Regions from separate parts of the Homo sapiens genome. Here all the other regions are linked to region 4. The links come from fine-mapping of genetic effects on plasma protein levels. Region 4 holds a variant in brackets. A gene starts in each other region. All regions are shown on their reverse strands.

The links. PIP is the posterior inclusion probability: the model's chance that the variant is causal. The UK Biobank Pharma Proteomics Project read protein levels with antibody pairs (Olink). The fine-mapping took linkage between variants from a reference panel, not from the people measured, so its PIPs are less certain.
Region 1: it holds the start of IL27, and the variant in region 4 is fine-mapped to the plasma level of the IL27 protein (UK Biobank, PIP above 0.99).
Region 2: TIMD4 starts here. The variant in region 4 is fine-mapped to the plasma level of the TIMD4 protein (UK Biobank, PIP above 0.99).
Region 3: it holds the start of EBI3, and the variant in region 4 is fine-mapped to the plasma level of the EBI3 protein (UK Biobank, PIP above 0.99).

The regions. Positions count from the first base shown.
Region 1 is chr16:28,499,136-28,507,224 of GRCh38, reverse strand. IL27 (interleukin 27) reads left to right here and starts at 391. Exons shown (of 5, transcript NM_145659.3): 1 at 391-444; 2 at 3,175-3,347; 3 at 3,432-3,530; 4 at 5,091-5,249; 5 at 7,305-7,863. The coding sequence starts at 414. The coding sequence ends at 7,574. RefSeq lists enhancers at 6,961-7,461, 7,462-7,962.
Region 2 is chr5:156,962,502-156,970,600 of GRCh38, reverse strand. TIMD4 (T cell immunoglobulin and mucin domain containing 4) reads left to right here and starts at 7,375. Exons shown (of 9, transcript NM_138379.3): 1 at 7,375-7,460. The coding sequence starts at 7,403.
Region 3 is chr19:4,225,145-4,233,232 of GRCh38, reverse strand. It overlaps EBI3 (Epstein-Barr virus induced 3), which reads right to left and starts at 3,710. Exons shown (of 5, transcript NM_005755.3): 1 at 3,616-3,710; 2 at 1,910-2,042; 3 at 1-104. The coding sequence starts at 3,682. RefSeq lists enhancers at 1,936-2,437, 3,401-3,490 and a silencer at 6,525-6,725.
Region 4 is chr20:35,564,012-35,572,114 of GRCh38, reverse strand. It overlaps the pseudogene FER1L4. Among named protein-coding and RNA genes, the nearest start is that of ERGIC3, 26 kb to the right of the region's middle. The variant T/G (reference allele first, on the strand shown) is at 4,022.

The DNA.
Region 1 (8,089 bases), not on the chromosome of region 4:
GCAATCCCCTTACCTGGCTATCCATCTTTGGAAGGACAGTAGACCCTAGGATGATGGTGGCAGAGCCGAGAATCAGGAGGGGGTTTGGGACTCTGGGATCAACCAGTGAATAGGGCTGGATGGCTCACCCAAGCATGGGACATTGAGGACAGGGCTGGACGTGGGAGCTTAGCAGTGAGTCTGGAGCTTGGATGTCCCGAAACCCCAGCTTCCCGTCACCCCCCATCATACCTCCCACCCCCTCCGGGAAGGGAAATTACATTTCCCCATTTTAGCAAGGGGTGGCGAGAGGGAAGAATGAGTGAACACAAAGCTGAAAGTACAAGCAGGACGGAAAGTGAAACCGGGCACAGCCCCCAGTATAAGACCCCCCCTACCCAGGAGATGGCTGACCAAAGAGGCTGGGCCCCGCCATGGGCCAGACGGCAGGCGACCTTGGCTGGCGTGAGTTTGAAGCCAGGGGTGGGGGGCTTGGTTGAGTTTGGGCAGAGAATGGACGAGCTTGGCTGGTGCAGATGGGGGGTCGAGAGCTGAGAGCAGCAACTTGGCCAAGACTGAGGATTCGGCTGGCTGCTGCATGGGAAGGGAGGCTGGCATGACTGGGTGGGGGCCTGGGGCAGTGGGGTGGTGGTCTGACCCAGGGCTGGGCAGAGGATGAGAAGGAGGCCTTGGCTAGTGGGAATGGGGAGGGTTGGACCAGCAATTTGACAAGGACCAGGTCTAGGCAGATAAATGAAGAGTTTGGAGTGAATAAGCAGAAGCCAAACAGCTTGGCTAAGACTGAGAATGGGGCCGGCTGGAGGAAGAGCAGAACGAGGTGCTGGCACAAGTGGAGCACTGGGACCAAGATGTCAGCAGCCTCACTGGGTCAAAGGTCTTTAGTTTGATGTTGGAAAGAGGTCCAATCTGCGGCTGGTGGCTGCAGAACTCAGGGGCTAGAACCAGAGCAGTAGGCAGTGGAGAAGGTAACATGCCACGTAGGGCAGGTAGGGACCAAAGGCTGGAGGATGGAGACAGAGCCTTCAAAGGCCAGAGCCAATGACCCAGGATCAGCTGCAGAGGGTAAGGAGGGGGTCTGGGGTCTCCAGAGGTCAGGTTGGAGATGGCACAGCTCACTTACGGTTGGGCTTGATCCACCAGGGCCTGGGGGCACCCACCCTGTCCCCAACATTGAGCTAGGAAGAACCCCACTCTGCCTTAAGTCTCCAGGATGTCAGAGGGTCCGAGTGGCCCCAAAACCAGGGAGTCTGAATGCCAGAGATCTTACGTTAGGCATCGCCCACCACATCTGCAAGCCCACGAGGGAGGTAGATGTCCCTAGAAGCTCCCCTTCACCTTTATCAGGGGACATTTCGAAGAGCAGAGCCCAGGGGTTAGAGATTGAGAGAGGACAGGGAAGAGGCAGGGAGAGAAGGGAGAGCAGGATGGACTTCGGGCCAGTTTTGGTTTGTGTTTCGAGGAGAATTGTGTAACTCTTGTGCTTGCTAGATTTCCTCTCCCTGAGGGGGAAATTGATGAATGCTGCCCTCTTCCTAGAGCGCCCATCCGCTGCCCCTCTTTCCAGGAAAACACAGGTCAGGAAGCACACTCGGAATTCAGCCATTCTGGGCTGGGCGCAGTGGCTGATGTCTGTAATCCCAGCACTTTGGGAGGCCAAGGCAGGCGGATCACCTGAGGTCAGGAGTTGGAGACCAGCCTGGCCAACACGGCAAAACCCCTCTCTACTAAATATAATAAAAATTAGCCAGGCGTGGTGGCTACTCAGGAGGCTGAGGCAGGAGAATTGCTTTAACCTGGGAGGTGAAGGTTGCAGTGAGTCGAGATCGCGCCACTGCACTGCAGCCTGGGTGACAGAGTGAGAATCTGTCTTAAAAAAAAAAAAGCTCCCATACTGTGGATTCGCCCCAGGCAGGTTACCCTGCTAGGATCCACCTGCCGTGGTGGAAACTGGACAAACCTGTCCTTTTGACTCCCTGGAATAGAGCCTCTGGCATTGCCAGCCCATCCCTGGGGACCTCATGGCCAGTTCAAGCCATCAGAGCCGCTTGGCTGAGCCCAAAGAATCCTTGCCAGAACATGGTGTGCCCACTCCTGGGGCAGATGGCTGCCTCCCTCTGCATTCTCTGGGGAAAACCCATGGGCTCTGCATTTGGAAAAACCTGGAATCCAGTCCTGGCTTCCCACCTTCTGGCTATTTGACCTTGGGCAAGTCAACCTCACTGAGCCTCACCTGCAAATTGGGGAGAACAATAGCACTGAGGCTGCCACACGTGGTTGTGCAGGTTGCTCACTGAAAAAGGCATTTGGCCAAGGGAGTTTATGGGGGTCAAAATCCAGTCTCTGTCCCGGCACAGTGGCTCATGCCTGTGATCCCAGCAATTTGGGAGGCTGAGGCGGGAAGATCTCTTGAGGCCAGGAGTTCAAGACCAGCCTGGGCAACATAGTGAGACCCTGTCTCTACAAAAAAATAGAAACAGTTAGGCACAGTGGTGTGTCCCTGTGATCCCAGCTACTTGGGAGGCTGAGGCGAGAGGATCACTTGAGCCTAGGAGTTCAAGGCTACAGTGAGCTGTGATCACACCACTACACTCCAGGCTGGGTGATAGAACAGAACTCTGTTTCAAAAAAAAAAAAAAAGGATCAGGCTTCTGGTCTTTTTGCAAAAGTGGGCACACCATGCGGAGATGCCATATGGGGGCCGTGCTGGCTGCATCGTGGGGTTTTGTTTTGTTTTGTTTTGTTTTGTTTTTTTGAGACAGAGTCTGGCTCTGTCGCCCAGGCTGGAGCACAGTGGTGTTAGCTCACTGCAGCCTCTGCCTCCCAGGTTCAAGCGATTCTCCTGCCTCAACCTCCTGAGTAGCTGGGATTACAGGCATGCACCACCACGCCCAACTAATTTTTGTATTTTTAGTAGAGACAGGGTTTCGCCATGTTGGCCAGGCTGGTCTTGAACTCCTGGCCTCAGGTGATCCGCCCGCCTCGGTCTCCTAAATTGTTGGGATTACAGGTGTGAGTCACCGCACCCAGCCTCCATTGTGGTTTTGAGGAGGCAGAGGAATGATGCTGGTCAAAGTGCCTGCACCGTGCTCACAGCTAGCACAGGCTCAGAAAAGGCATGTTCCCTTCCTTCTCAAGCTCTCTCCCTGTCTTGCCACCCTCTTCCCATCTCTCCAGGGCTCAGCCTGTTGCTGCTTCCCTTGCTCCTGGTTCAAGCTGGTGTCTGGGGATTCCCAAGGCCCCCAGGGAGGCCCCAGCTGAGCCTGCAGGAGCTGCGGAGGGAGTTCACAGTCAGCCTGCATCTCGCCAGGAAGCTGCTCTCCGAGGTTCGGGGCCAGGCCCACCGCTTTGTAAGTCCCCCTAATGCAGCTGGCGCTGGAGATGGGCAGACCCCCAATCCCTTCTGGCCCCCACTAACAGACCTTGCCCCCCAGGCGGAATCTCACCTGCCAGGAGTGAACCTGTACCTCCTGCCCCTGGGAGAGCAGCTCCCTGATGTTTCCCTGACCTTCCAGGCCTGGCGCCGCCTCTCTGTGAGTGAGGGCTGGTGGAGTGGGGCGGGAAGCTTGTGATAGGCTGGGGCCAGGGTGCAAGATGAGGCTGGAGATTGAGCTGGAGATGCATTGGGGATAGAACCTGGATAAGGCTGAATATGTCATTGGACATAGAGATGAAAGACAGGCATGGTGACTTACACCTATAAACCCAGCACTTTGGGAGGCCCAGGTGGAAGGACTGCTTGAGGCCAGGAGTTCAAGACCAGTCTGGGCAACATAGTGAAACTTTGTCTCTACAAAAAAAAATTTAAGAGTTAGCCAGGCATGGTGGTGTACACCTTTGGTCCCAGCTACTCAGGAGGCTGACATGGGAGGATTGCTTGAGCTCAGGAGTTGGAGGCTGCAGTGAGTTATGATCCTGGACTCCAGGATGGAGAACAGAGGGAAACCCTGTCTCAGAAAAATAAATAAACTGCCAGGCGTGGTGGCTCATGCCTGTAATCCCAGCACGTTGGGAGGCTGAGGAGCACGGATCACCTGAGGTCAAGAGTTCAAGACCAGCCTGGCCAACATGGCGAAACCCCATCTCTACTAAAAAATACAAAAATTAGCTGAGCGCAGTGGCTCACGACTGTAATCCCAGCACTGTGGGAGGCTGATGTGGGTGGATCACCTGAGGTCAGGAGTTCGAGACCAGCCTGACCAACATGAAGAAACCCCACCTCTACTAAAAATACCAAATTAGCCGGGTATGGTGCTGTGCGCCTGTAATCCCAGCTACTCGGGAGGCTGAGGCAGGAGAATTACTTGAACCCAGGAGGTGGAGGTTGCAGTGAGATGAGATCGCGCCACTGCACTCCAGCCTGGGCAACAGAGCGAGACTCCATCTCAAAACAAACCAACAATAAAGATGAAGCTGGAATAAGGAAGTGGGGTTGGGAAGAGGTAAGAGTGGAGCTAGGCATGGAACGCGGCAGGCATGGGACTGGAATGAGGCTGGAGACAGATCACAGCAGCATGGAGGGTGGGTGGAGGTGGCACTGGGGGTGAGAATGCGGATAGTTAGAGATGAGAAGGTGATGATGAGGGTGAACGTTAAGCATGGGATGGAGAAGGGATGGGGATTGCTGGTGGGGAAGGGAATGGAATAGGGTTAGGAATGAGGTTGGAGATGGGATGGAAAGATGGAAAGAGTGAGTCTGGGCACATGGAGGAAGGATGGAGTTGGGGTTAGGAATGGGAATGAGGCTGAAGATGGGATGGAAACACATGGGCAGGAGGTATGATGGGATGGTGGAGGAGGGAAGGGAACAGGGCTGTGGATGGAGAGTGCTTCAGGGACTGAGAGGGGGTGGGTTAGAGAAGATCATTGGCATAGGAGTGAAAGGGAGGCTGGAAAAGGAGATGGGACAAATGTCCCAGACAGTGGAGATGGAAGGAATGGGGACACAGCTGGGCTGAGGTGGGGGAAGAGCTACAGGGATGGACTGGAGGCTGGAGCGTGGAATGGGAAGGAGACCCGGATAGGGAGGGGGTGGGTGTGATATGGCCATCCTTGGCCTGTGGACCTTTCCTGACCATCTCCCTCCCCTTCAGGACCCGGAGCGTCTCTGCTTCATCTCCACCACGCTTCAGCCCTTCCATGCCCTGCTGGGAGGGCTGGGGACCCAGGGCCGCTGGACCAACATGGAGAGGATGCAGCTGTGGGCCATGAGGCTGGACCTCCGCGATCTGCAGCGGCACCTCCGCTTCCAGGTAGAGCCCGGCCACCCTCCACCACCCCAGACCACGTGGGAAAGAAGACTCGCTGGCTCATTCAGTGATCCCATGCTCTGAGTGTGTGTGAGTGTGAGAGTGTGAGTGTGACTGAGTGTCCATGAGTGTGTGGGTTCATGAGTGTGAGAGTGACTGTGTGGGTCCGTAAGTGTGGGAGAGTGAGTGTGACTGTGTGGGTCCATGAGTGTGACAGTGTGACTGTGAGAGTGTGTGAGTGTGGGTCTGTGAGTGTGAGAGTGTGTGGGAGTGACTGTGAGTGCATGTGGGTCTGTATGAGTGTGAGCATGACTGTGTGTGAGGGTGTGGGTCCGTGAGTGTGAGAGTGAGTGTGTGGGTCTGTGTGAGTGTACCTGACTGTGAGAGTGTGTGGGTGTGACTGTGAGTGTGTGTGTGGGGGGGCTGTATGAGTGTGAGCATGACTGTGTGTATGTGCGTCCGTGTGTGAGTGTGACTGTGAGTGTGTGGGTCTGAGTGTGAAAGTGTGTGGCTGTGAGTGTGTGAGTGTGTGGGTGTGACTGTGAGTGTGTGTGGGTCTGTATGAGTGTGAGCGTGACCGTGTGTGTGTAGGTCCATGAGTGTGAGACTGTGAGTGTATGGGACTGTGAGTGTAAGAGTGTGGGAGTGTGTGGGTGGGTGTGTGAATGTGAGTGTTGTGAGTGTGAAAGTGAGGTGTGTGGGTGAGAGTTTGGGTATAGGTATGTCAGTGTGTGAGGATGAGTGTGAGTGTGAGAGTATGTGGGTACGTGAACGATTTTTTTTTTTTTCTGAGACTAAGTCTCACTCTGTCGCCCAGGCTGGAGTGCAGCGGTGCGATCTCAGCTCACTGTAACATCTGCCTCCCAGGTTCAAGCAATTCTCCTGCCTCAGCCTCCTGAGTAGCTAGGACTACAGGCGTGCACCATCATGCCTGGCTAATTTTTTTGTATTTTTAGTTTCACCATGTTGGCCAGGCTGGTCTCAGACTCCTGACCTCGCGCTCTGCCCGCCTCGGCTTCCCAAAGTGCTGGGATTACAGGCGTGAGCCACTGTGCCCAGCCATGAATGTGTTTTGTGTGAATGTGACTGTATGGGAATGAGTGTGGGTGCGTTGTGAGAATGAGTATGTGTGTGAGTGTGTGCGTGTGTGCAGGCGCACACACAGCCACACCAGGCCCTGGTGCTGCCCCTCAATCTTCACATTCTCCTGGGGCTCTATCTTCAACAGGAGGCCATTGGGCTGTGAGGTCACTCGGGGTGTGTCCTGAGTGCCCAGCACAGCGTCTGCCTCCTGTTTCCTTTCTCCCTCTGATTCTCTGATGTCACCCAGATCCTCCAGAACCTTTCAAAGGGAAATCAGAATTTTACACTTAATGAAATGAGAATAGAAAATGCAAGCAGCAGGGCTGGGCGTGGTGGCTCACGCCTGGAATCCCAGCACTTTAGGAGGCCAAAGCGGGTGGATCATTTGAGGTCAGGAGTTCGAGACCAGCCTGGCCAACATGGTAAAACCCCATCTCTACTAAAAATACAAAAATTAGTCGGGCGTGGTGGTGCGCGTCTGTAGTCCCAGCTACTCAGGAGGCTGAGGTAGGAGAATTGCTTGAACTGGGGAGACAGAGGTTGCAGTGAGCCGTGATCACCCCACTGCACTCCAGCCTGGGCGACAGAGCGGGGCTCCCAAGAAAGAGAGAGAGAGAGGAATGGCAAGCAGCAGGGAATCTGAGCTATGTCACCCTCTGCCTGTTGCTGACCCGACCCAAAAGCAACTTTCACAGCAGAGAGAAACTTCCTGAACCCCACGCCTCGGGGCAGTCCTTGGGGTGATCTAGCTCTGTGAGCATCCTCTTGCTCCTTGACTTCCATTTTCTCGAACTGAAAGATCAGGTGAGACGCGTTAGCAGGTGACATCATGGAAGATCAAGCAGGGAATGTCCGGGGAAATCATGACCTTGTGGTCACTGATGTCATTGGGAACCGCTGGGCATGAATAGGGAATGAGGATTCCTCTCAGGTTCTCGGCCTGGCCCCTCCCTGACCCATGGCCTCTCCTCACAGGTGCTGGCTGCAGGATTCAACCTCCCGGAGGAGGAGGAGGAGGAAGAGGAGGAGGAGGAGGAGGAGAGGAAGGGGCTGCTCCCAGGGGCACTGGGCAGCGCCTTACAGGGCCCGGCCCAGGTGTCCTGGCCCCAGCTCCTCTCCACCTACCGCCTGCTGCACTCCTTGGAGCTCGTCTTATCTCGGGCCGTGCGGGAGTTGCTGCTGCTGTCCAAGGCTGGGCACTCAGTCTGGCCCTTGGGGTTCCCAACATTGAGCCCCCAGCCCTGATCGGTGGCTTCTTAGCCCCCTGCCCCCCACCCTTTAGAACTTTAGGACTGGAGTCTTGGCATCAGGGCAGCCTTCGCATCATCAGCCTTGGACAAGGGAGGGCTCTTCCAGCCCCCTGCCCCAGGCTCTACCCAGTAACTGAAAGCCCCTCTGGTCCTCGCCAGCTATTTATTTCTTGGATATTTATTTATTGTTTAGGGAGATGATGGTTTATTTATTGTCTTGGGGCCCGATGGTCCTCCTCGGGCCAAGCCCCCATGCTGGGTGCCCAATAAAGCACTCTCATCCACCCCTGGCCTCCGCTTCTCTTCGGGTAAGGGCTGTCTGACACCCAGAGGGCAGGGCAGCCTGGAACGGGGTCAGCAACCTCTAGCCATCCTGAACCCCTCTCTGCTCCTACATTTTTGGGGTCTCTGGCCCACCTTCCCCTACTATGTCCTGCTCCGGCAGGCAGTTGCCATAGTAACCAGCAGCATCCTGAGGCCGAGCTACCGTGTTGGAAGCTCAAGGCAGCT
Region 2 (8,099 bases), not on the chromosome of region 4:
GGAAAAACTTTAAAATCATCCAGCCAAATTCTCGCTTTGCAGAGGGTTTTTTTGTTTTTGTTTTTTTCAGAATTAAGATTCCAAATGACTGCAAACCCAATGCAAATTGACTTAAGCCCAGAAGGAAATGTATTGCCTCATTGATGTGCCTTGTTTCAGGGATTCCACTCATGTCATAGACCTAGACTTGCTTTAGTTCCTCACTTGCCTTCTGCTTGATTGGTTCTCTTGTGAGGTAGGCTTTCCTCGTTGGTGGCAAGACTGCTGACATTAGCTTCCAGCTCACTTCCTCACAGCTCAGACCACAGGAAAATAGAGAGGGTCTCTATCTGTTAAAAGTCACAATAAACATCTCAAGATTGTGTATCCTTGACTTCATTTGAGTCAATTGCCTATCCTTGAGCCAATTGTGCCCATGAATGAAATCAACGCCACCTGAACTGCATTGACTGAGAATGAGGGAAGTCCGGTTCTCCAGAGGCAAACCTCCAAATGCAGAGAATGAAGGTGGCAAAAACATGAAATATCCAGCACTGCTTTGGACTCTGTCAATAATATGCTTTAATAAAAACTGAGCATCAAATATTAGGATGTTTGTGAATATTCTGAAACTTGATCATGGAATCTAACTTAGGAAGAGACAACCAAGTTTAGTCTCTTTTTCCGGTGTTTGACCCCTCCAGATACTAGATTACTTTTAACATTTACACTCTTAAAACAAAGGAATATGTGCATTTTAAAAAATGAATTTTATTTTAAAGCAGTTTCAGATTTGCAGAAAAATCAAAGATAATACAACAGAGTTCTTATGTACCATACACCTGTTTCCCCTATTATTAACATCTTATATTAGTGTGATATATTTATTAAAATTAATGAACCGGCCCGGCGCTGTGGCTCATGCCTGTAATCCTAGCACTTTGAGAGGCCAAGGTGGGTGGATTGCTTGAGGTCAGGAGTTCAAGACCAGCCTGGCCAATGTGGTGAAACCCTGTCTCTACTTAAAATACAAACAATTCGTCGGGTGTGGTGGCAGGTGCCTGTAATCCCAGCTACTTGGGAGGCTGAGGCAGAAGAATCGCTTGAACCCAGGAGGCAGAAGTTGCAGTGAGCCGAGATCATGCCACTGCACTCCAGCCTGGGCAACAGAGCAAGACTCTGTCTCAAAAAATAATAATAACAATCAAATCAAATCATATAAATGAATCAGGATTGGTACATTATTATTATCTAAAATCCATACTTTATTTATATTTTCTTACTTTTTAGCTAATGGCCTTTACCTGTGCCAAGATCCCACCTGGGATACTACATTAAGTTTATTATTTATTTATTTATTTAATTTATCTTTCAAAAATAGAGACAATGTCTCACTATGTTGGCCAGGCTGGTCTTGAACTCCTGAGCTCAAGTGATCCTCCCACCTCAGCCTCCCAAAGTGCTGGGATTACAGGTGTGAACCACCTCACTTTGCCTGTTTTCTTCATGTCAGTGTCATGGGTTTTGAGGAGGAAGTCCATAGAGATAAAGTGACCCTTATATTACATCATGTCAAGGGTACATATTATCAACTCAACTGATTGTTGATGTTGATCTTGATCAACAGGCGCCTGAGGTAGTATTTGTCAGTTTTCTCTACTGTAAAGCTACTCCTGCCCCGCCACTCCCCATTGTATTTTTTTGAAAGAAGTCAGTAGGTCAAACCCACACTGAAAGAGTGGGGAGTTAGGCTTTATCTCCTTGAGTGGGGAGTATCTACATAAATTATTTATAATGCTTCTGGGGAGAAGATTTGTCTATTCTCCCCTACTTATTTATGGAGTCATAATTTACTTCTGTCAGTATGGACTCAGATATTTATTTTATACTTTGGATTATAATCCAGTATTCTTCTATTTATTTTGTTGCTCAGGTTGTTCCAGCTTTGAGGTGGAGCCAAAGCTTTTTGGAAGCTCTTTTGATAATCTCCTTTGCTCTTTAAAATAATCTCATTATTGTGGGATTCTTTTTTAATTTTCCTTTTTTTTTTTTTTTTTTAAGCACTTTCTTGCTGTTACTTACTGACATTGCAGGATGTTCCAGGTTCAGTCCGTATGTTTTTCACCTCAGTACTAGAGTCAGCCATTTCTCCAAGAAGCCCTGGTTCTTTTTATGGGAGGATGGAATTAGAAATTAAGATGTGGGTGCTAGGTATGCTCAATATAGCCATTTTATTTTATTTTATTATTTACTTATTTATTTATTTTGAGATGATCTCCCTCTGTTGCCCAGGCTGGAGTGCAGTGGTGCGATCTCAGCTTACTGCAACCTCCGCCTCCCGGGTTCAAGAGATCCTCCAGCCTCAGTTTCCCGAGTGGCTGGGATTACAGGCTCACACCACCACACCCAGCTAATTTTTGTATTTTTAGTAGAGACAGGGTTTTGCCATGTTGGCCAGGCTGGTCTCAAACTCCTGGCCCCAAGTGATCTGCCTACCTCGGCCTCCCAAAGTACTGGGATTACAGGCATGAGCCACCATACCCGGCCTCAATATATGCATTTTTAATAGTCAAGTTGTAAAAGGTTTATAACTAAAAAAATAGTGAATTTCTTTCCCACTTTTTTGCATTAAACTCTTTTGAGCTTGTTCTTCTGGTTTTTACCTTCATATTACTCACAGCGTGTTTATGCTGGTATTGTCTGATTGACCAATTTGAGACACTATTTGTTGACTCCCTGTAAAGGTGAATAGACTTTGGCTTTCTTACACCCCCACCCCGCTTCCTCTCTACCAATTTTTCCAGTGTAGTCAAATCAAAATATGTGTTAAGTTGGGGCACAGTGGCTCATTTCTGTAATCCCAGCACTTTGGGAGGCTGAGGCAGGCAGACCACTTGAGGCCAGGAGTTCAAGACCAGCCTGGCCAACATGGTGAAATCCCATCTCTACTAAAAATACAAAAATTAGCCGGGCATTGTGGTGCATGACTGTAATCTCAGCTACTTGGGAGGCTGAGGCATGAATCACTTGCACCCTGGAGGCAGAGATTTATCCGAAGTATTCCATGCAGTGAGCCAAGATCGCACCACTGCACTCCAGCTTGGGTGACAGAGTGAGACCCTGTGTCAAAAAAATAAATAAATAAAAATAAAAATGGTGTATTAAGCCAGTAGCCAGATTTTACATTATTACCAGCATGTAACTATTAATATCTTTCACACTTAGCAAATGCACCATAATTACATTTCTTTTCTCGTACAAAATTTTATCTTTCCTGGTTGTAATAATTATCTCATTTTTTGTTTGTTTGTTTGTTTGTTTGTTATTTTGAGACGGAGTCTCGCTCTGTCACCCCAGCTGGAGTGCAGTGGCATGATCTTGACTCACTGCAACCACCACCTCCCTGGTTCAAGGGATTCTCCCACCTCAGCCTCCCAAGTAACTGGGATTACAGGCATGTGCCACTGCACTCAGCAACTTTTTGTATTTTTGGTAGAGATGGGGTTTCTCCATGTTGGCCAGGCTGGTCTGGAACTCCTGACCTCAAGTGATCCAACTGCCTCTGCCTCCCAAAGTGCTGGGATTACAGGCGTGAGCCACTGCACCCAGCCTTCATTGTGTTTTTTTCTTAATTTCCCAAGTATCCATCAAAAATTCATCCCATGGCTGTGGGCAGTGGCTCATGCCTATAATCCCAGCACTTTGGGAGGCTGAGATGGGAGGATCACTTGAGACCAGGAGTTTGAGACCAGCCTGGGCAACATGGCAAGACCCTGCCTCTACAAAAATTTAAACAAATTAGCTGGGTGTGGAGGCACACCTGTGGTTCCAGCTACTTGGGAGACTGGGGCAACAGGATTGCTTGAGCCTGGAGGTTGAGGCTTTACTAAGCCATGTTCATACCAGTGCACTCCGGTCTGGGCAACAGAGCAAGACCCTGTCTCAAAAAAAAAAAAAAAAAAATTCATCCCAAGTATTCCATCATATCTGCCAAACACCTATCAAAGTTATTTTCAAATTACCTAAGTACATGAGCTTATTCGTGACACTCACTACCACCACCCCAAGGCTTATTCCTCTGCTCTTCTGCCCCAGCCTGAGGTGGTTATTAAAGTAATTATTCTCCAAAGATGCTTCCCCTACCACTCCAATGAACCACACTTCCTCGCATTCACATCCTTGTATTGCTCCCTCCACTTGAATTCTCTGGGATGGCCTTATAATTTGCCTTTTGACCAATAAAATACTGTAAAAATGATACTGAATGTTACCTAAGGCTAGGTCATAAGAACCTTTGTGGATTATTCCTGAGCATGTTGGAATGCTAATTTTTGAGAAAGCCAGATCCTATGTAAAAAATCCAACTACTCTGAGACCACCATACTGTAAGGAAGCCCAAGCTTCCATGTAGAAAGGTCATGTGGAGAGAGACAGTTGTCAGTCCAGCCCCTATCTCTTCTAGTCATTCTATTAATTTGCTAGACATACAAGTCCAGCTAGAAGTGTCATTTTGGATGATCAGTCATGTGAGTGAGAAAGTTATCTTGGACAAATAGTCCAATCTAGTCTTGAGATAGCCACTGTCACTGGGTGAGAGCTACCCAGCTGAACACTGTCATCCCAGGGAATCATGAAAAGTACATTGACATTGTTCAGGCACTAGGTTTTGGGGTGGTTTGTGATGCAGTGAAACAGTTCCCCTCTAGGTCTGTTCTGCAGTTTTCTTTGTGAAATTTTTCTTCCCTGGAGTTAGATGTCATGTTTTCTGGACCCCATGACTTTCTGTTTCCTGGTTATTTCTCCCGTTTTGCTACAGATTTCTCTTCCATAACTTCTAGGAAAGGAAGTATAGTAAGTAAATTTTGAATCTATGTCCAAAAAGGCCTTTATTATGATCTTACATTTGAGAAATAGATTGTCTGCGAGTAGGATTCTAGGTTGAAATTAAATTTCTCCTCTGGATTTTTTTTTTTTTTTTTGGACACAGGTTCTCTGTCTGTTTTCCAGGCTGGAGTGCAGTGGCACAATCTCAGCTCACTACAACCTTCACCTCCCGGGCTCAAGCAATCCTCCCACCTCAGCCTCTGGAGTAGCTAGGACCACAGGTGCGCATCACCACACTCGGCCAATTTTTTGTATTTTTGGCAGATATAGATTTTCTTTTCCTCTTTTTTTTTTTTTTTTTGATGGAGTCTCCTTCTGTCACCCAGGCTGGAGTGCAGTAGCATGATCTCAGCTCACTGCAACATCTGCCTCCTGGGTTCAAGTGATTCTCCTGCCTCAGCCTCCCAAGTAGCTAGGATTACAGGCATGCACCACCACACCCAGCTAATTTTTGTATTTTTAGTAGCGACCAGTTTTGCCATGTTGCTGGGACTTGTCTTGAACTCCTGACCTCAAATGATCTGCCCGTCTTGGCCTCCCAAAGTGCTGGGATTACAGGCGTGAGCCGCCACGCCCGGCTGATACAGGTTTTTACCATGTTGCCCAGGCTATTCTGGAACTCCTGGACTCAAGTGATCCACCCACTTTGGCCTCTTAAAATGCTGGGATTACAGATGTGAGCCACCACACTCGGCCTTCCCTCTGAATTTTGAAGGCATTCGTGCATTATTTTCTAGCTTTGTTGTTTGGAACAACAATGCCATTCTATTTCCAAATCCATTCAGTGCAATATGTTGTTCTTTCTCTCTGGAGTCTTTTCGTATCTTTTCTTTATGTCTGATGTTCTCATATTACATGATAATGTCTTGCTTTTTGGGGATATTTTTATTCATTGAGTTTAGCATTTGATTGACCCGCTCAATACTGAGAGTCATCTCCTTTAGTTACGAGAGTCTTTCCTTTATTATTTCTTTAGTAATTTCCTCTCCTCTATTTTCTTTTTTAATGTTCTGAAACAATCCTAGTCCTTTGACTTTGTAGATGGTTATAATTTCTAACAAATTTTCTTAACTTTATTTTTCAAAACTTCCATAAAATTCGGGACATTTTTATAATGTCTATGTTCTTTTTCATGAATGTAAAATCTTTCTTTCTGAGAAAATATTAGCTTTTTAAAAAGTTTTTGAAGTTCTCTTTAGCTCTCCCTGTTATTTTTGTCTCTTTTTTATGTTAAATGCTTTCCTCAAATGTCTGATGATCCCTGGTTATCTGTTCATATCTGAAAGGGACACTAAAGACTCATTAACAGTTCTGCATGCATGGCTGAGGCTCATGCACTGATGAACTTATTGAAGGAGGGTTGAGTGGTTTTGTTGGGGAACACTCAAAACTATAAATATCTGAAAATGTTTTATTGGGACCACTTAGTTTATCCAGAGATTAAATCCTCCAGTTTCCTGGGATAGAATGGGGAAAGGATCCCTTGGTTCTGTGGGCATTCAGTGGGAAGATTCACTCTGAATCCCGTTATTTTCATCCCTGCTCATGTTAGTCTGGCTTCTCTGGGTCTAGAACCTCACCTGATATTTAGATTTTTCACTGATACCTTCAGTAGAAGCAATGTTGAATGTTTGAGGTTTGCTGGCTGTTTACAATCAATTAAGGATTTTTAAAAATCTAGAACATTTGTGAATTCTTATATTTTCTTCCTGGTACTAAGTAGGAGCTAGCCACAGGTAGGCCTCATCATATGGATACATTACCCAAACGGTCACAGGTCAAAGGACAATGTAGTGATTAACCATAAGCTTTGGAATCAGGAAGTTCTGGGCTTCAGTGTCTTCCTAAAACTTAAAAAAAAATTTAATTTTTTTATTAAACTTTTTTTTAAATAAAAAATTGAGATGGGGTTTCGCCATGTTGATCAGGCTGGTCTCAAACTCCTGGCCTCAAGCGATCCTCCCATCTCGGCCTCCCTAAGTGCTAGGATTACAGGTGTGAGCCACTGTGCCTGTCCTCACTTTTCTTTCTCCATTATTAGGGCAAGGAGGCCAGGGGACAGGGTGAGGGAGAACCTAGAATGGGAATGGAGGCAACTTTCAGTCTAACTATGCTTTGGCCCCATGAGGAATCTACATGTAAACACTTGCCAGTATGGAGAGTCAATTGCACTTTGTGACAGGCTGTACAGCAGTTGGGACAACTGTGGCACATGCACAGGTTATACAGGCATATTTGCACCAGCACATGCATGGATGCTTGTGCACATATAGGAAACCCACTATACACATGGACAAAGAAGCACAAGTATGTCCACGCCATCCCTCCACACACACACTAGTCACCAGGAGAAAAGGGCTCAGCACATTTCATCATGCATCGCCCATTGGGGGAAGCCATGTAGGACAGGAGAAAGGGAAGATTATGAGGCAAAAAGAGAAATGAAACTAAAGAGTCCCACCCTGTCAGCATTAACTGGGATATAAGAGGTTGGGCTTTGGATAGATAGACAGACTCCTGGGTCCGGTCAACCGTCAAAATGTCCAAAGAACCTCTCATTCTCTGGCTGATGATTGAGTTTTGGTGGCTTTACCTGAGTAAGTGTTCTGAAACCTTCTATGTAGAAGTTTCCAGAGGACTTGCTATTGTGTGATGGATTTCCATGCACTGGTTTGGGCCTCAGTGAAGCAGAAGCTCACTTCATTTCTGCATCCCTCCCCTCTCCCTACCAGGCTTCCTTCTGTGGAGGGTCTCTGTCCTGCCTTGTTACACAGAGGTTTATCCAGAGACTGGTCTGGGGGTTTTAGGCTGGGGTAATTTGGGCTTATATTGGAAACAGCAACTGAAGAAGAGACACAGAAATAAGTGGTCAGATAAATTGGGGAAAAGAGATTTCCTCTATGGGTGTTATTCATATAATCAATAAGCCAGGAGAATTTGTTCTGGTGAGAATTGTGATAATTCTTATCATTCCCTCTGTTTTTAGAAGTGTTTGCTTTTTGTTTTGTTTTGCTGGGGTGAGGCTTTATGTAAGGTTTCTTTTCTGCACGTTGTTTTTGGGTTTTGGATGATGCAAGTGTACACACTCAGTTTTGGCCAGTGAAGTTCTTTGCATCCTGGTGGTATAGAGCCAAGTGTTCTGGCCTGAGCTGCAGCTGCGTCTCGGGCACTAACTGTTGACACTGGGAATATGTCTAAATTGCTCTGGCTCTCCCATATTTGAAATGAGAGACCTG
Region 3 (8,088 bases), not on the chromosome of region 4:
AGGGAGCCATGGAGAACAGCTGGACATCCGTGATGGTGCAGCTGGTGGACGTTGGCGTCTGCTGCAGGCAGGGCCAGCTGTGGCCCCGGGCAGCCATGCCGAGCCTGCACAGGGTGGGGCTCGCTGAGCGCCTCAGGGAGTGCCTGTGGCCTCAGCACCTCCTACTGCCGGGCCTGACCCGGGACCCCAAGGAGAGGCAGGAACAGGAGGGGGCAGCGGATGGGGATCCCGGGGTGGGGTCCTGGTGGTGGCCGTGCCACCCCCCGGGGGCAGGGCATGGGCCCCAACATCACGGTGCCCCTGATGGTTCAGGTCGGGGATTACAACCCAAGCTAGATGCTAGGGTCCGGGATTCTAAAGGTTTCTGGGATGTCAGCATTCATTCATTCATCCATCCATTCATTCATTCATTCATCCGTTCATTCATTCATTAATTCATTCCTTCATTCATTCATTAATTCATTCCTTCATTCATTCATTAATTCATCCCTTCATTCATTCATTCATTCATGACAGGGTCTCCCTCTGGCGCCCAGGCTGGAGTGCAGTGGCATGATCCTAGCTCATTATAGCCTTGAACTCCTGGCTCAAGGGATCTTCCCTGTCTCAGCCTCCAGAGCGGTTGGGACTACAGGCACGCATCACCACTCTTGGCTAATTTTAAATTTTTTTTCTACAGATGGGGGGGGGTCTCAGTATGTTGCCCAGGCTGGTCTTGAACTTCTGGGCTCAAGTGATCCTCCCACCTCGGCCTCCCAAGTACCTGGGACTACAGATGTGTGCCATTACATCCAGCTAATTTTTTTGATTTTAAGTACAGACAGGATATTGCTATGTTGCCCAGGCTGGTCTCAAACTCCTGGGCTCAAGTGATCCTCCCACCTCAGCCTCCAGAGTAGCTGGGACTACAGGCAAGTACCAACATGCCCAGCTAATTTTTTTTTCTTTTTCGAAATTTTTTCTTTTCTTTTCTTTTCTTTTCTTTTCTTTTTTTTTTTTTTTTTTTTTTTGAGACGGGGTCTCACTCTATCACCAGGATGCAGTGCAGCGATGCAATATTGGCTCACTGCAACGTCCACCTCCTGGGTCAAGCAATTCTCCTGCCTCAGCCTCCCGAGTAGCTGGGACTACAGGCGCGTGCCATCACACCTGGCAAATTTTTGCATTTTTAGTAAAGACAGGGTTTCACCGTGTTCGCCAGGGTGGTCTCCATCTCCTGACCTTGTGATCCGCCCACCTCGGCCTCCCAAAGTGCTGGGATTACAGGCGTGAGCCACCGCGCCTGGCCATGCCCAGCTAATTTTAAAAATTGTTTTTAGAGACAGGGTCTCACTATTTTGCCCAAGCTGGACTCAAACTCCTGACCTCAAGTGATCCTCCCACATCAGCCTCCCAAAGTACTGGGATTACAGGCATGTGCCACTGTGCCCAACCCAGGAAGTAGTTTTTTTTTTTTTTTTTTGAGATGGAGTCTTGCTCTGTTGCCCAGGCTGGAGTGCAATGGTGCCATCTTGGCTCACTGCAACCTCCGCCTCCTGGGTTCAAGCTATTCTCCTGCCTCAGCCTCCGGAGTAGCTGGGATTACAGGCATGAGCCACTGCACCTGACCAATTTTTAAAATTTTTCGTAGAGACAGTGTCTCACTACGTTGCCCAAGCTGGTCTCAAACTCCTGACCTCAAGCAATCTGCCCACCTCGGCCTCCCAAAGCGCTGGGATTACAGGCATGCACCACTGTGCCTGGCCCAGAAAGTATATTTCTATTGGACGGGGCCGCCCTAGAATTCCATAGGCCTGGGGTTCAGGATGTCGGGGTCTCCAGTTTTCCTGACCCCAGGGCTCTCAGGGCCAGAGTTCTGGGCTCTCCAGGAAGTCCAGTGTCCCTGAGGCCCCCTTCCAGGCTCTCCGACCTGTACGTGGCAATGAAGGACACGGGGCTGGTGGAGTTTGGAGCAGGCGGCAGGGTCCAGGAGCAATCCACGGCGATCGGGTACCGAGAGGCTCGGCATTGCACCCGGGGCAGTGTCAGAGCTGCTGGGGGCCCTGGAGGAAGACAGAAAGAGTGAGCTTCTGGTTTACCCCCAGATTGTCATAGCCCTCCCGTGCGCTGGGCTCCTGCCACGTTGCCAGCCAGCACCAGGTACATGGTAGGTGCCTAATAAAGGCTTTCGGAATAAATAGGTACATGGACAAAAGTCATCTGTCATCTTTTATCCCCACTGCAATCCATCTAGGTGAGGACTACTAGCCCATTTTCCAGATAGGGAAGCTGAGGTTTAAGCATCTACAGAGAGGAACTCGGGTAAGAGAGAGAGATTTTACCGTGTTCTCTCTTTTGTAATTGTTTTTTTTTTTTAAAGAGGGAGTCTCCCTCTGTCGCCTAGGCTGGAGTGCAGTGGCGAGATCTCGGCTCACTGCCACCCCCGCCTCCCGGGTTCAAGCGATTCTTAGCCTCCCGAGTAGCTGGGATTACAGGCATGTACTGCCACGCTTGGCTAATTTTTGTATTTTTAGTAGAGAGGGAGTTTCACCATGTTGGCCAGGCTGGTCTCAAACTCCTGACCTCAGGTGATCCACCTGCCTTGGCCTCCCAAAGTGCTGGAATTACAGGCGTGAGCCACCAAACCCAGCCTATAAATTATTATTATTATTATTATTTTGAGACAAGGTATCCCACTCTGTCACCTAGGCTGGAATGCAGTGGCACAATCATAGCTCACTGCAGCCTCCAATTCCTGGGCTCAAATTATCCTCCCACCTCAGCCTCCCAAGTAGCTGGGACTACAGGCACGTGCCACCACATCTAGCTAATTTTTTAATTTTTTGTACAGATTGGTGGGGTCCGGTTTCACTATGTTGCCCAGGCTGGTCTCGAATTCCTGGCCTCACGATCCTCACGCCCTGGCCTCCCAAAGTGCTGGAATTACAGGCATGAGCCACCATGCCCTGCTGTAACCATTTTGTCTTCAAGGACATGGAGATGTTCTCTAGTGCAAAATGAATGAATGTCGGCCGGGCGCGGTGGCTCACATCTGTCATCCCAGCACTTTGGGAGCCCGAGGTGGGTGGATCACCTGAGGTCAGGAGTTCAAGACCACCCTGGCCAACATGGTAAAACCCTATCTCTACTAAAAATATAAAAAGTAGCCGGGCATGGTGGCGGGCACCTGTAATCCCAACTACTCGGGAGGCTGAGGGAGGAGAATCTCGCTTGAACCCAGGAGATGGAGGTTTCAGTGAGCTGAGATGGTGCCACTGTACTCCAGCCTGGGCGACAGAGTGAGACTCTGTCTCAAAAAACAAAACCAAAAAGAAACCAAAGGAATGAGTGTGACTCAAATTCGCATGTCTGTGTAGCTATGTCTGTGTAGCTCTATGGATACCTCTGAGCTGTGACTGCCAGTCCCTATCACCCACAAGGTGACATCCTTCCACCCCCAATGTGGCACTCTGCCTCTCTGTGCCTCAGTTCCTCCATCTGTACAATGGGAGGGTAACCCCATCCCACCATTGGGCACGGGAGGATGTGATTTCCCACCCCAGACATGATCCGAGGCCAGTCCTCGTGTCATGTCCGTCTGCCTGGGCCCCCCAGTCCCCCAGGGGCCCCACATACCTTTCCTTCCACTGCAGGGCGGGCAGCTGGCCCAGAGGACAAGGGCCAGGAGAAGCTGCGGGGTCATGGCTGCGGCCAGCTCTGCTCTCAGGAGTGGGTGGGAACGTCGTGGGAGACTTGAGAGGGGAGGTGAGGACTTGGGACCTGCCCAGGGGAAAGCCCAGCCCAGGGTCAAGGCCCGCCCCCTCCCCGACTTCCTTCAGGTCTGACTCACTGGTGGGGCTCGTGGGGCCGCTAGGGAGATGAATTAGGGTGTGGAGGAGCCCCAGCCCCCTGGGGAGCACAGGCCACCCCTGCTCGGAAGGCCCCGAGGGTGGGGGCGGGGGAGGAGGCTGTGAAAGGGAGAAGTGGAGACCTGCTGGCTTTTCCCAGCACAGCATGTCCTGCTGGCCTTCCTTCCGCTGCCCTGAAGCGGGGGAAACCCCAGGCAGGCAGGCAGGGGCTCAGGGACATGGAGGGAGACAGAGGCAGAGATGGGGGAGAGAGGCAGAGAGACAGAGAAGACAGAAGGAAGACACAGAGAGACAGGGAGATGACAGAGACAGAGACACAGAGAGAGACACAGATGAGAGAGGCAGAGAGACAGAGACAAGAAGAGGAGGACACAGAGATAGAGGGATACAGAGACAGGGAGATGACAGAGACAGAGACAGAGAGACACAGATGAAAGAGGCAGAGAGACAGAGACGAGAGGAGGAGGACACAGAGATAGACAGGGAGATGACAGAGAGACACAGAGACACAGATGAAAGAGGCAGAGAGAAAGAGACGAGAGGAGGAGGACACAGAGAGAGAGAGACAGAGACAGGGAGATGACAGAGACAGAGACAGAGAGAGACACAGATGAGAGAGGCAGAGAGAAAGACAAGAGGAAGAGGACAAAGAGATAGAGAGACAGGGAGACGACAGAGACAGAGAGAGATACAGATGAGAGAGACAGAGATGAGAGGAGGAGGACACAGAGATAGATAGAGACAGGGAGATGACAGACAGAGAAAGGGGCATGACAGAGACAGAAACACAGAGAGAGACACAGAGATGAGAAAGGCAGAGATGAGAGGAGGAGGACACGGAGATAGACAGGGAGATGACAGAGACAGAGACAGAGACAAAGATGAGAGAGTCAGAGAGACAGATGAGAGGAGGACACAGAGATAGAGGGATAGAGAGACAGGGAGATGACAGAGACAGAGAGAGCTACAGATGAGAGAGGCAGAGAGACAGATGAGAGGAGGACACAGAGATAGAGGGATAGAGAGACAGGGAGATGACAGAGAAAGTGACAGAGATACAGATGAGAGAGGCAGAGAGACAAATGAGAGGAGGACACAGAGATAGAGAGAGACAGAGACAGGGAGATGACAGAGACAGAGAGAGATACAGATGAGAGAGGCAGAGAGACAGAGACGAGAGGAGGAGGACACAGAGATAGAGAGACAGGGAGATGACAGAGACAGAGAAAGGGGGATGACAGAGACAGAAACACAGAGAGAGACAGAGATGAGAGGAGGAGGACACAGAGATAGATAGGGAGATGATAGAGACAGAGAGAGACAGGGGAATGAGAGAGACAGAGACAGAGATGAGAGGAGGAGGACACAGAGACAGAGAGAGACAGGGAGATGATGGAAACAGAAAGAGAAACACAGAGAGCAGACAGACAGAGGAAGAGAGACAGAGGGACAGAGATAAGAGAGGAAGACAGAGATAGGGAAATGAGAGAGACACAGAGACAGAGATAAGGGAGGAAGACAGAGAAAGAGAGACACAGATGGGAAGATGAGAGACAGAGACAGAGAGACAGAGATGAGAGAGTAGGATAGACAGAGATAGAGAGATGGTGGGGCACGGTGGCTCACGGCTGTAATCCCAGCACCTTGGGAGGCCAAGGCAGATGGATCACCTGAGGTTGGGAGTTCGAGACCAGCCTGACCAAAATGGTGAAACCCTGTCTCTACTAAAAATACAAAAATTAGCTGGGCGTGGTGGCAGGCACCTGTAATCCCAGCTACTCTGGAGGCTGAGGAAGGAGAATCACTTAAACCTGGGAGGCAGAGGTTGCAGTGAACCAAGATTACACCACTGCACTCCAGCCTGGGTGACAGAGTGAGACTCCATCTCAAAAAGAACAACAACAACAACAAAAAGACTGATGGGGCAATGACAGAGATGGAGAAAGAGAGACAAAAGAGAGACAGAAAGAAGACAGGAAGACAGAAATAGAGATACGGGGAGATGACAGACACAGAAAGAGAGACAGAGAGATAAGAGAAGACGACAGAGGGCCGGGTGTGGTGGCTCACGCCTCTAATCCCAGCACTTTGGGAGGCTGAGGCGGGCGGGTCACAAGGTCAGAAGTTCGAGACCAGCCTGGCCAATATGGTGAAACCCCGTCTCTACTAAAAATACAAGAATTAGCTGGGCGTTGTGGTGCGCACCTGTAATCCCAGCTACTTGGGACGCTGAGGTGGGAGAATCGCTTAAACCTGGGAGGCGGAGGTTGCAGTGAGAGGAGGTTGCAGTGAGCCGAGGTCACGCCACTGCACTCCAGCCTGGGAGATAGAGTGAGACTCTGTGTCAAAAAAAAAAAAAAAAAAAAAGGCTGAGCGTGGGGGCTCACACCTGTAATCCCAGCACTCTGGGAGGCCGAGGCGGGCGGATCACAAGGTCAGGAGATCAAGACCATCCTGGCTGACATGGTGAAACCCCGTCTCCACTAAAAATGCAAAAAAATTAGCCGGGCGTGGTGGCAGGCGCCTGTAGTCCCAGCTACTCAGGAGGCTGAGGCAGGAGAATGGTGTGAACCCGGGAGGCGGAGCTTGCAGTGAGCCGAGATGGCGCCACTGCACTCCAGCCCGGGCGACAGAGCCAGACTCCGTCTCAAAAAAAAAAAAAAAAGAAGACAGAGATAGAAAGAGACAGAGAGATGGGAGATGGGGACATGAGAGAGACAGAGACAGAGCAAAAGAAACACAGAGAGACAGAGATAAGAGAGGAGGAAGACACAGACAAAGACACAGGGAGACAGACAAAACAGCAAGACAGACAGATGGAGACCAAGAGATAGAGACAGAGACGTGGAGACTGGGTGCGGTGGCTCACGCCTGTAATCCCAGCACTTTGGGAGGCCAATATGGGTGGATCACCTGAGGTCAGGAGTCCGAGACCAGCCTGACTAACATGGTGAAACCCCGTCTCTACTAAAAATACAAAAATTAGCTGGGCATGGTGGCACGTGCCTGTAATCCCAGGTATTCCGGAGGCTGAGGCAGGGGAATTGCTTGAACCCGGGAGGTGGAGGTTGCAGAGAGCCGAGATCGCATCATTGCACTCTAGTCTGGGCAATAAGAGCGAAAATCTATCTCAAAAAAAAAAAAAGAGAGAGACAGAGACATGGAGAAGAGAGACAGAGAGAGACACAGGAGCGCAGGCCAGGGGAGGCAGCTGCCACCGCAGATATCCCAGCGATCAGGATGCCCAGGAACAAGGAAACCCCCAGGGGCAGGCTGGACAGGCTCGGGGATCCCCGCTCCCACTCCTGCCTCCCCTCTGTTTGCTGAAAAATGCCAAGAAACCCGTGGGGATTTCGGGGGAGTTGCCAAGGGGCAGGGAGAGGCTGGGGGTAGGGGGCTTCCACCATGGCCAGCCTTAGGATTTAGGAAAGTATCTTTCTTTCCTTTTTTTTTTTTTTTAAATCTTTTTTTAGAGGCAGGGTCTTGCCCTGTCACCCAGGCTGAAGTGCAACAGCCTCTAACTGCTGCACTCAAGCGGTCCTCCCTCCTCAGCCTCCTGAGTAGCTGTGACCACAAGTGCGCGCCACCATGCCCAGCTAATTTTTGTATTTTTGATAGAGATGGGGGTTTCCCCATGTTGCCCAGGCTGGTCTTCAACTCCTGGGCTCAAGAGATCCTCCCACATTGGTCTCCCAAAATGCTGGGATTATAGGCATGGGCCACCGCACCCGGCCAAGCCTGCCTTTCTTTAACATTTCCATACTTAGTTCAGCATGCACTTTTTTTGCACCCATTTTGCCTTTTTGAAATATTGCATTAAGATGGAGTTTATCCAAAGGCCGGGCACCATGGCTCATGCCTGTATTCCCAGCACTTTGGGAGGCCAAGGCGGATGGATCACCTGAAGTCAGGAGTTCGAGACCAGCCTGGCGAACATGGTGGAACCCTGTCTCTACTAAAAATACAAAAATGAGCCGGGTGTGGTGGCACATGCCTTGTAATCTTAGTTACTCGGGAGGCTGAGGCAGGAGAATCACCTGAACCCGGGAGGCAGAGGTTGTAGTGAGTCGAGATTACTCCACTGCACTCCAGCCTGGGTGACAGAGGGAGACTCCGCATAAAAAAAAATAAAAGAGGCCAGGTGCGGTGGCTCAAGCCTGTAATCCCAGCACTTTGGGAGGCCAAGGCGGGTGGATCATGAGGTCAGGAAATTGACCATCCTGGCTAACATGGTGAAACC
Region 4 (8,103 bases):
TAGATAGATAGATACATACATACATACATACATACATACACACACACACACATACATACTTTCCTGTTAAGTTCAACATTGTGTTGCTCTCACGGGCATTTTTTGGGGGGTGGATGGAAAAATAATTTTTCTATTTCTTTGCAGGCCTCATAATTTTTTGTTGGAAACAGCATTTAGATAATATATGATAGCAACTCTGGGTACTGAGGTTTCTTGTTATTTGCTTGTTTATTTGTTTAGTGACTGGCTGGATTATTTTAGCAAAGTCTATTTCCCATCCCCTGTGTTAGATCACTGATGTTGCTACTCTGGCAGGTGCAGCTTTGGATATACCACTGTCACCCTAGGATGACAGTGGTACTGGTAGGGCCCTCTTGCATTCTTTTCCCTGACCACACCCAGTTAAGCTCTACTTATTGCTCTGTCATTTGCAGTAGTATCCTGGGAGCATAAAATCCTCTACAAATAAATCTAATCAAATGGTGGCTCTTTCCAATGAATACTTTCTGAGGTTAGTGTTTGATATTTGTTTTAACCCCAGGAGAGCTCCTCCCAGCTGTCTTATCCTTTGGCTCTCCCCTGTAAAATAGATACAGCCTGTAGTCTAAGCTGTATCTTCATTACATCCACGAATCTCCTCCCAATCCCTTCACTACAACGTCCACTTTTTTTTTCTTCTTTAGACACAGTCTCACTCTGTTGCCCCAGCTGGAGTGCTGTGGCACAGTCTCGGCTCACTGCAACCTCCGCCTCCTGGGTTCAAGCAATTCTCTTGCCTCAGCCTCCCGAGTGGCTGGGATTACAGGCGCCTGCCACCACATCCAGCTAATTTTTTGTATTTTTAGTAGAGACAGGGTTTCTCCATGTTGGTCAGGCTGGTCTTGAACTCTTGACCTCATGATCCGCGCCCCCCCCTTGGCCCCCCAAAGTGCTGGGATTACGGGCATGAGCCACTGTGCCCGGCTGAGACCCTATCTCTACAAAAAAATTTAAAAGTTAGGCCAGGTGCAGTGGCTCACCTCTGTAATCCCAGCACTTTGGGAGGCCAAGGTGGGCAGATTACCTGAGGTCAGGAGTTTGAGACCAGCCTGGCCACCATGGTAAGACCCCAATGCTCTACTAAAAATACAGAAATTAGCAGGGCATGGTGGCATGTGCGTAGTCCCAGCTACTAGGGAGGCTGAGGCACGAGAATTGCTTGAACCTGGGAGGCAGAAGTTGCAGTGAGCTGAGATCATGCCACTGCACTCCAACCTGGGCGACAGAGCTAGACTCTGTCTCAAAAAAAAAAATAAAAAATAAAAACAAAATAAAAATTACCTGGACGTGGTGGTTCCTGCTTGTTGTCCCAGCTACTCAGGAGGCTGAGGTGGGAGGATTGCTTGAGCCACTGAGGATGCAGTGTGCCAGAAAAAAAGGAAGAAAACTTACTTATTTTTGAGATAGTCTTGCTCTGTCGCCCAGGCTGGAGTGCAGTGGTGCAATCTTGGCTTACTGCATCCTCCACCTCCTAGGTTCAAGCAATTCTCCTGCCTCAGCTACCTGAGTAGCTGGGATTACAGGTGCCTGCATCCACGCCTGGCTGATTTTTCTATTTTTTAGTAGAGACAGGGTTTTGCCATGTTGGCCAGGCTGGTCTTGAACTCCTGGCCTCAAGTGATCCACCCACCTCGGCTTCCCAAAGTGCTGGGATTACAGCCATGAGCCACCATACCTGGCCAGAAAACCTGAATAGTACTATAAGTATTAAAAGAAATTGTGTCAGAAACTCCAGACCAAATGGTCTCAGCAGCAGTTTCCACCAGTTATGGATGAAACAATTTTAATCTTACACAAACCATTTCAGAGAATATAAAAAGAAATACCCCAGTTAATTCCATGAGGGTGGCATAATGTTGATGCAAAACCTGAGAAGAATGACATGAGAAAGTATAATTCTAGGCCAGTTTCACTCACAAACATTTATTCCACAGGTATTTCTTGCATTTTTTTTTCTTTTTTTTTTTTTTTTGAGACGGAGTTTCGCTCTTGTTGCCCAGGCTGGAGTGCAATGGCGCAATTTCGGCTCACTGCAACCTCCGCCTCCTGGGTTCAAGCGATTCTCCTGCCTCAAGCTGGGGTTTACAGGCATGCACCACCACACCCAGCTAATTTTGTATTTTTAGTAGAGACAGGGTTTCTCCATGTTGGTCAGGCTGGTCTCAAACTCCCGACCTCAGGTGATCTGCCCGCCTTGGCCTCCCAAAGTGCTGGGATTAGAGGTGTGAGCCACCGTGCCCGGCCTTTCTTGCATTTTTTATGAGGTACTAGGCAGTGTTCTGGGTACTGGTGATAAAAAGCAGTGAGTAAAACAGATGAAAATCAGTGCCCTCGTGAACTTTACATTCTAGTGAAAAGAGATGAACAATAACCATAATCAATAAGTAAATTATATAGCTTACGGGCTGGGCATGGTGGCTCACGCCTGTAATCCCAGCACTTTGGGAGTCTGAGGAGGGGGCAGATCACCTGAGGTCAGGAGTTCGAGATCAGCCCGAACTCCTGTCTCTACTAAACATACAAAACCCGTCTCTACTAAAAATACAAAAATTAGCCAGGCCTGGTGGCACATGCCTGTAGTCCCAGCTACTCAAGAGGCTGAGGAAGGAGAATTGCTTTAACCCAGGAGGCAGAGGTTGCAGTGAGCTGAGACCACACCACTGCACTCCAGCCTGGGCGACAAGAGCGAAACTCCATCTCAAAACAAAAAAAAGTTATATATCTTATTTATATGTTAGAAAATTATAAGTGCTGTGGAGAAAATATGTCAGGATAAAGGGATGGGGGAGTGCTGGGGGTGGGTTGCAAATGGATGGTCGGAGTTGATAGACCTCAATAAGACTTTTTTTTTTTTTTTGGTAGAGACGAGGTCTTGCTATGTTGCCCAGGCTGGTCTCGAACTACAAAATGCTGGATTACAGGAATGAGCCACCATGCCCGGCTGAGAAAGTGTTATTTAAACAAATACTAGAGTTGGGCACAGTGGCTTCCACCTGTAGTCCCAGCTACTAGGAAGGCTGAGATGGGAGGATTGTTTGAGCTTGGGAGGTTGAGGCTATAGTGAGCTGTGATGCCACCACTGCAGTTCAGCCTGGGTGACAGAGAGAGACCCTGTCTCTTAAATACACACTAGGAGGGGGCCAAGGAGTTATCCAGGTGGCTACCTGAGGGAGAAAGCATTCCAGGCAGAACAGCTGGTACAGAGGCCATCAGGTAGAACCATGACTCGTGTGTGACAAACAACAAGGGGCCCCTTGTGGCCGTAGCAGGCAGGATAAATGAACAGGTTTTAGGAATTAAGGCTTCAGAGGAAATGGAGCAGTGATGGGCAGAGAAAGCAGATCATGTTGGGTTTTGTTATTCACTTTATTCTGAATTACATGGGAAGCCATAGGAAGGTTCTGAGCAAAGGAGTGCCAGAATATAACTTACATTTTCTTTTTTTTTTTTTTTTTTTTTGAGACAGAGTCTCGCTCTGTCACCCAGGCTGGAGTGTAGTGGTGCTATCTTGGCTCACTGCAACCCTTTCCTCCTGGGCTCAAGCGATTCTCCTGCCCCAGCCTCCCAAGTAGCTGGAATTACAGGCGCTCGCCACCACGCCTGGCTGATTTTTATATTTTTAGTAGAGACAGGGTTTCGCCATGTTGGCCAGGCTGGTCTCAAACTCCTGACCTCAGGTGATCCACCCGCCTAGGCCTCCTAAAGTGCAGGGATTACAGGCATGAGCCACTGCTCCTAGCCTTTATTGTCCTTTTAAAAAAATGAATGTCAGGCCAGGCGCAGTGGCTCATGCTTGTAATCCCAGCACCTTGGGAGGCTGAGGTGGGCGGATCACGAGGTCAGGAGTTCGAGACCAGCCTGGCCAACATGGTGAAACCCAGTCTCTACTAAAAATACAAAAAATTAGCCGGGCGTGGTGGCAGGCGCCTGTAATCTCAGCTACTCAGGAGGCTGAGGCAGGAGAATCGCTTGAACCCTGGAG[T/G]CAGAGGTTGCAGTGAGCCGAGACCGCGCCACTGCGCTCCAGCCTGGGTGACAGAGCGAGTCTCTGACTCAAAAAAAAAAAAAAAAGAAAAAGAAAAAATTAAGATCATCTTAGTGGGTATAAAGTGGTATCTAATTGTGGTTTTGATTTGTTTCCTAATGACACTGAACAGTCTTCATGTGGTTTTTAGAACTTTGTATATCTTGGAGACATGTCTAAAGTCCTTTGTCCGTTTTAAAATTAGATTGTTGTTTTGTTGTTGAGTTGTAGGAGTTCTTTGTATATTCTGGCTACTAGATTTTTATATGGCTTGCAAATATTTTCTCACTTTCTACGTTGTCTTTTCACTCTATTGATAGTGTCCTTTAAAGCAAAAGAGATTTTAATTTTGATGAAGTCTATTTTTATTTCTTTTATTGACTGTGCTTTTTGGTTATAGCTAAGAAACCTTTGCAAAATCCAAGGTCATGAAGACTTTTGCCTGTTTTCTGCTGTGAGTTTGAGTTTTGACTCTCATGTTTAAGTCTGTGATCCATTTGGGGTTAGTTTTTGTATCTAGTGTGAGGTGAGGGTCTGACCTCATACTTTTGTATGTGACTGTCCAGTTGTCTCAGCTCCATCTGTTGGAGAGATGGTTCTTTTCCCATTGAATGGTCTAGGTACCCTTGTTGAAGATCAATTGACCATAGATATGTGGATTTCTTTCTGGACTCTCAGTTCTATTCTACTGATCTATGTTTATGCCACTACCATACTCCTTTATTACTGTCTCTGCAGTAAATTCGCGGGTTTTTTTTTTTTTGAGACAGGGTCTCACTCTGTTGCCCAGGGTGGGGTGCAGTGGCATGATCACGGCTCCCTGCAGCCTTGACCTCCCAGGCTCAAGCGATCCTCCCACCTCAGCCCCCACAAGTAGCTGGGACTACAGGCGCATGCCACCACACCCAGCTAATTTTTTCTATTTTTTAGTAGAGACAGGATTTCACCATGTTGCCCAAGCTGGTCTCGAACTCCTGAGCTCCTGCCTGTCTTAGCCTCCCAAAGTACTAGGATTATAGCCATGAACCACTGAGCCGAGCCAGCACAGGAAATTAAGGCTTGACTGAGTATCTCTAAGTAGGATTTGGACAGGACAAGAGAAGAAAGAGATTTCAAAGAATAAAATTAATATGTAATCACAAGGAGAAAAAAAGCTTTGCCTTTATGAAGACTGCATTCTAGTAGGAGAAACAAACATTAACAAAATAAGTAAATGTTTCAGTGCGTTAGAGAGGCATAAGTGTGGCCAGGCGTGATAACTCACGCCTGTAATCCCAGCACTTTGGGAGGCTGAGCCAGGCGGATCACCTGAGGTCAGGAGTTTGAGACCAGCCTGGCCAGCATGGTGAAATCCGTTCTCTACTAATAATACAAAAATTAGCCAGGTGTGGTGGCATGTGCCTGTAATCCCAGCTACTCGGGAGGCTGAGGCAGGAGAATCCCTTGAACCTGGGAGGTAGAGGTTGCAGTGAGCCGAGATCATGCCATTGCATTCCAACCTGGGCAACAGAGCGAGACTCTGTCTCAGGGAAAAAAAAAAAAAAAAAAAAGAAGAAAGCATAAGTGCTATGGAAAATATAAATACCAAAAAAAAATCAAGTTGGCACAGTGGCTCATGCCTGTAACCCCAGCTACTCAGAAGGCTGAGGTGGGAGGACTGCTTGATGCCAGGAGTTCTCGAGACCAGCCTGGGCAACAGAACAAGACCCAATCTCTAAATTAAAAAGATGTAAAGATCATCATAGAGAAAGTACAGATTACCACAATGGAATGACAGTCAGCCCATCAACTTCTCTACAGCAACCAAAAGTGCTGGAAGAAAAATAGAATAATATCTTCAAAGCACTGAGAGAAAAATAACTATCACCCTTGAATTGTGTGTCCCAGGAAACACTCATTCAAGAGAGAAAAAAATGAAAGACCTCTTTAGGCAAACAACAATTGAAAAAATCACCCAACAACTTTCAGTCAAGAAACTACACAGGGCTGGAGGTGCAGAGGCTCACACTGTGTAATCCCAGGACTTTGGGAGGCTGAGGTGGGAAAATCATTTGAGGCCGGGAGTTCAACACCAGCCTTGGCAATGTAGTGTGAGACCCCTGTCTCTATAAAAAGGGGGGGAAAAAAACTACACAGGATGTAATTTCTTTCTTTCTTTCTTTCTTTTTTTTTTTTTTTTTTTGAGACGGAGTCTCGCTCTGTCGCCCAGGCTGGAGTGCAGTGGCGCAATCTCGGCTCACTGCAAGTTCCGCCTCCCGGGTTCACGCCATTCTCCTGCCTCAGCCTCCTGAGTAGCTGGGACTACAGGTGTGCGCCACCACGCCTGGCTAAGTTTTGTATTTTTAGTAGAGATGGGGTTTTCCATGATGGCCAGGCTGGTCTCAAACTCCTCACTGCAAATAATCCACCTGCCTTGGCCTTCCAAAGTGCTGGGATTACAGGTGTGAGCCACTGCGCCCGGCCCAGGAGTTTGAGACCAGCCTGGGCAACATAGTGAGACCCTCATCTCTATTAAAAAAATTCATAAATTAAAAAATAAGTCAAACCATATAGAAAGTTATGAGTTGAATAGTAAGTCCGTTATACATCTTTCAAAATATTTTGTTTCATTACACTTTTTGTTATACCTATTTGTATGACTTAACTATTTCATAACTAATTGAAAATAAAAGTCATCTTGTCCAACCTCTCCATTAGCTCCTCACAGTGGGAGATCTCTCCTTGATAACTTCCTGCTTTCACCCAATGGGAAATTAGGTCCTACAAAGGTAACCTTGGGTTATCATAATGACATTTCTCTCAGTTCCACTCCATGCTGTTCCCCTAGGCTACCAACCTGGCTCCTGCAGACCCCAATGGCAAAGCAGACCCTTACGTGGTGGTGAGCGCTGGCCGGGAGCGGCAGGACACCAAGGAACGCTACATCCCCAAGCAGCTCAACCCCATCTTTGGAGAGTGAGGCTGGGCCCTGTGGGGTGGAAACGGGGTAGCTGCAGGAGCATCCAGCCCTGTGGCCTTGTGGCAGCTGGCCTAGGAATGGCAAGGGAATGGACAGGGGATGCTGACACACCCGCCTCCTCCCCAGACCACCTCCTGGAGCATGGAAGTGACCTCAGTCCCTCTCCCTCCTTGCCAGGATCCTGGAGCTAAGCATCTCTCTCCCAGCTGAGACGGAGCTGACGGTCGCCGTATTTGATCATGACCTCGTGGGTTCTGACGACCTCATCGGGGAGACCCACATTGATCTGGAAAACCGATTCTATAGCCACCACAGAGCAAACTGTGGGCTGGCCTCCCAGTATGAAGTGTGGGTCCAGCAGGGCCCACAGGAGCCATTCTGAGTTTCTGGCCAAACACATTCAAGCTCACATTCCCTTTTGTGTTCTCCAGATCCTATGATTTCATGGAAGGGGACCCTCCCACCCACCGCCACTGCCAACCAAGACATAGCTCAGTGGTCAAGACTTGGGCTTGGGAGTCGGGATCCTGTAACGAATGTCACTTGACCGCTTTCTTTTTTTATGAAACAGTCTCGCTCTGTCTCCCAGGTTGGAGTGCAGTGGCACGATCTCGGCTGACTGCAACCTCCACCTCCTGGGTTCAAGCGATTCTCCTGCCTCAGCCTCCCCAGTAGCTGGGATTACAGGCGTGGGCCCCCATGTCCAGCTAATTTTTATATTTTTAGTAGAGACAGGGTTTCACCATGTTGTCCAGGCTGGTCTTGAACCCCTGACCTCAAGTGATCCACCCACCTCTGCCTCCCAAAGTGCTGGGATTACAGGTGTGAGCCACCATGCCAGGCCCACTTAACCTCTTCAAGTCTGTTTTCTCATCTGCAAAACAGAGGTAATAAGATCAGTATCTTCTTAATGGAAGCACCTGGACTACATTTTTTTCATTCATTGTTATCATAAATGAGGACTAACCTGTCTCCCGTTGGGAGTTTTGAACCTAGACCTCATGTCTTCATGACGTCATCACTGCCCCAGGCCCAGCTGTGTCCCTACACCAGCCCCAGCTGACGCATCTTCTTTTTCTGCCTG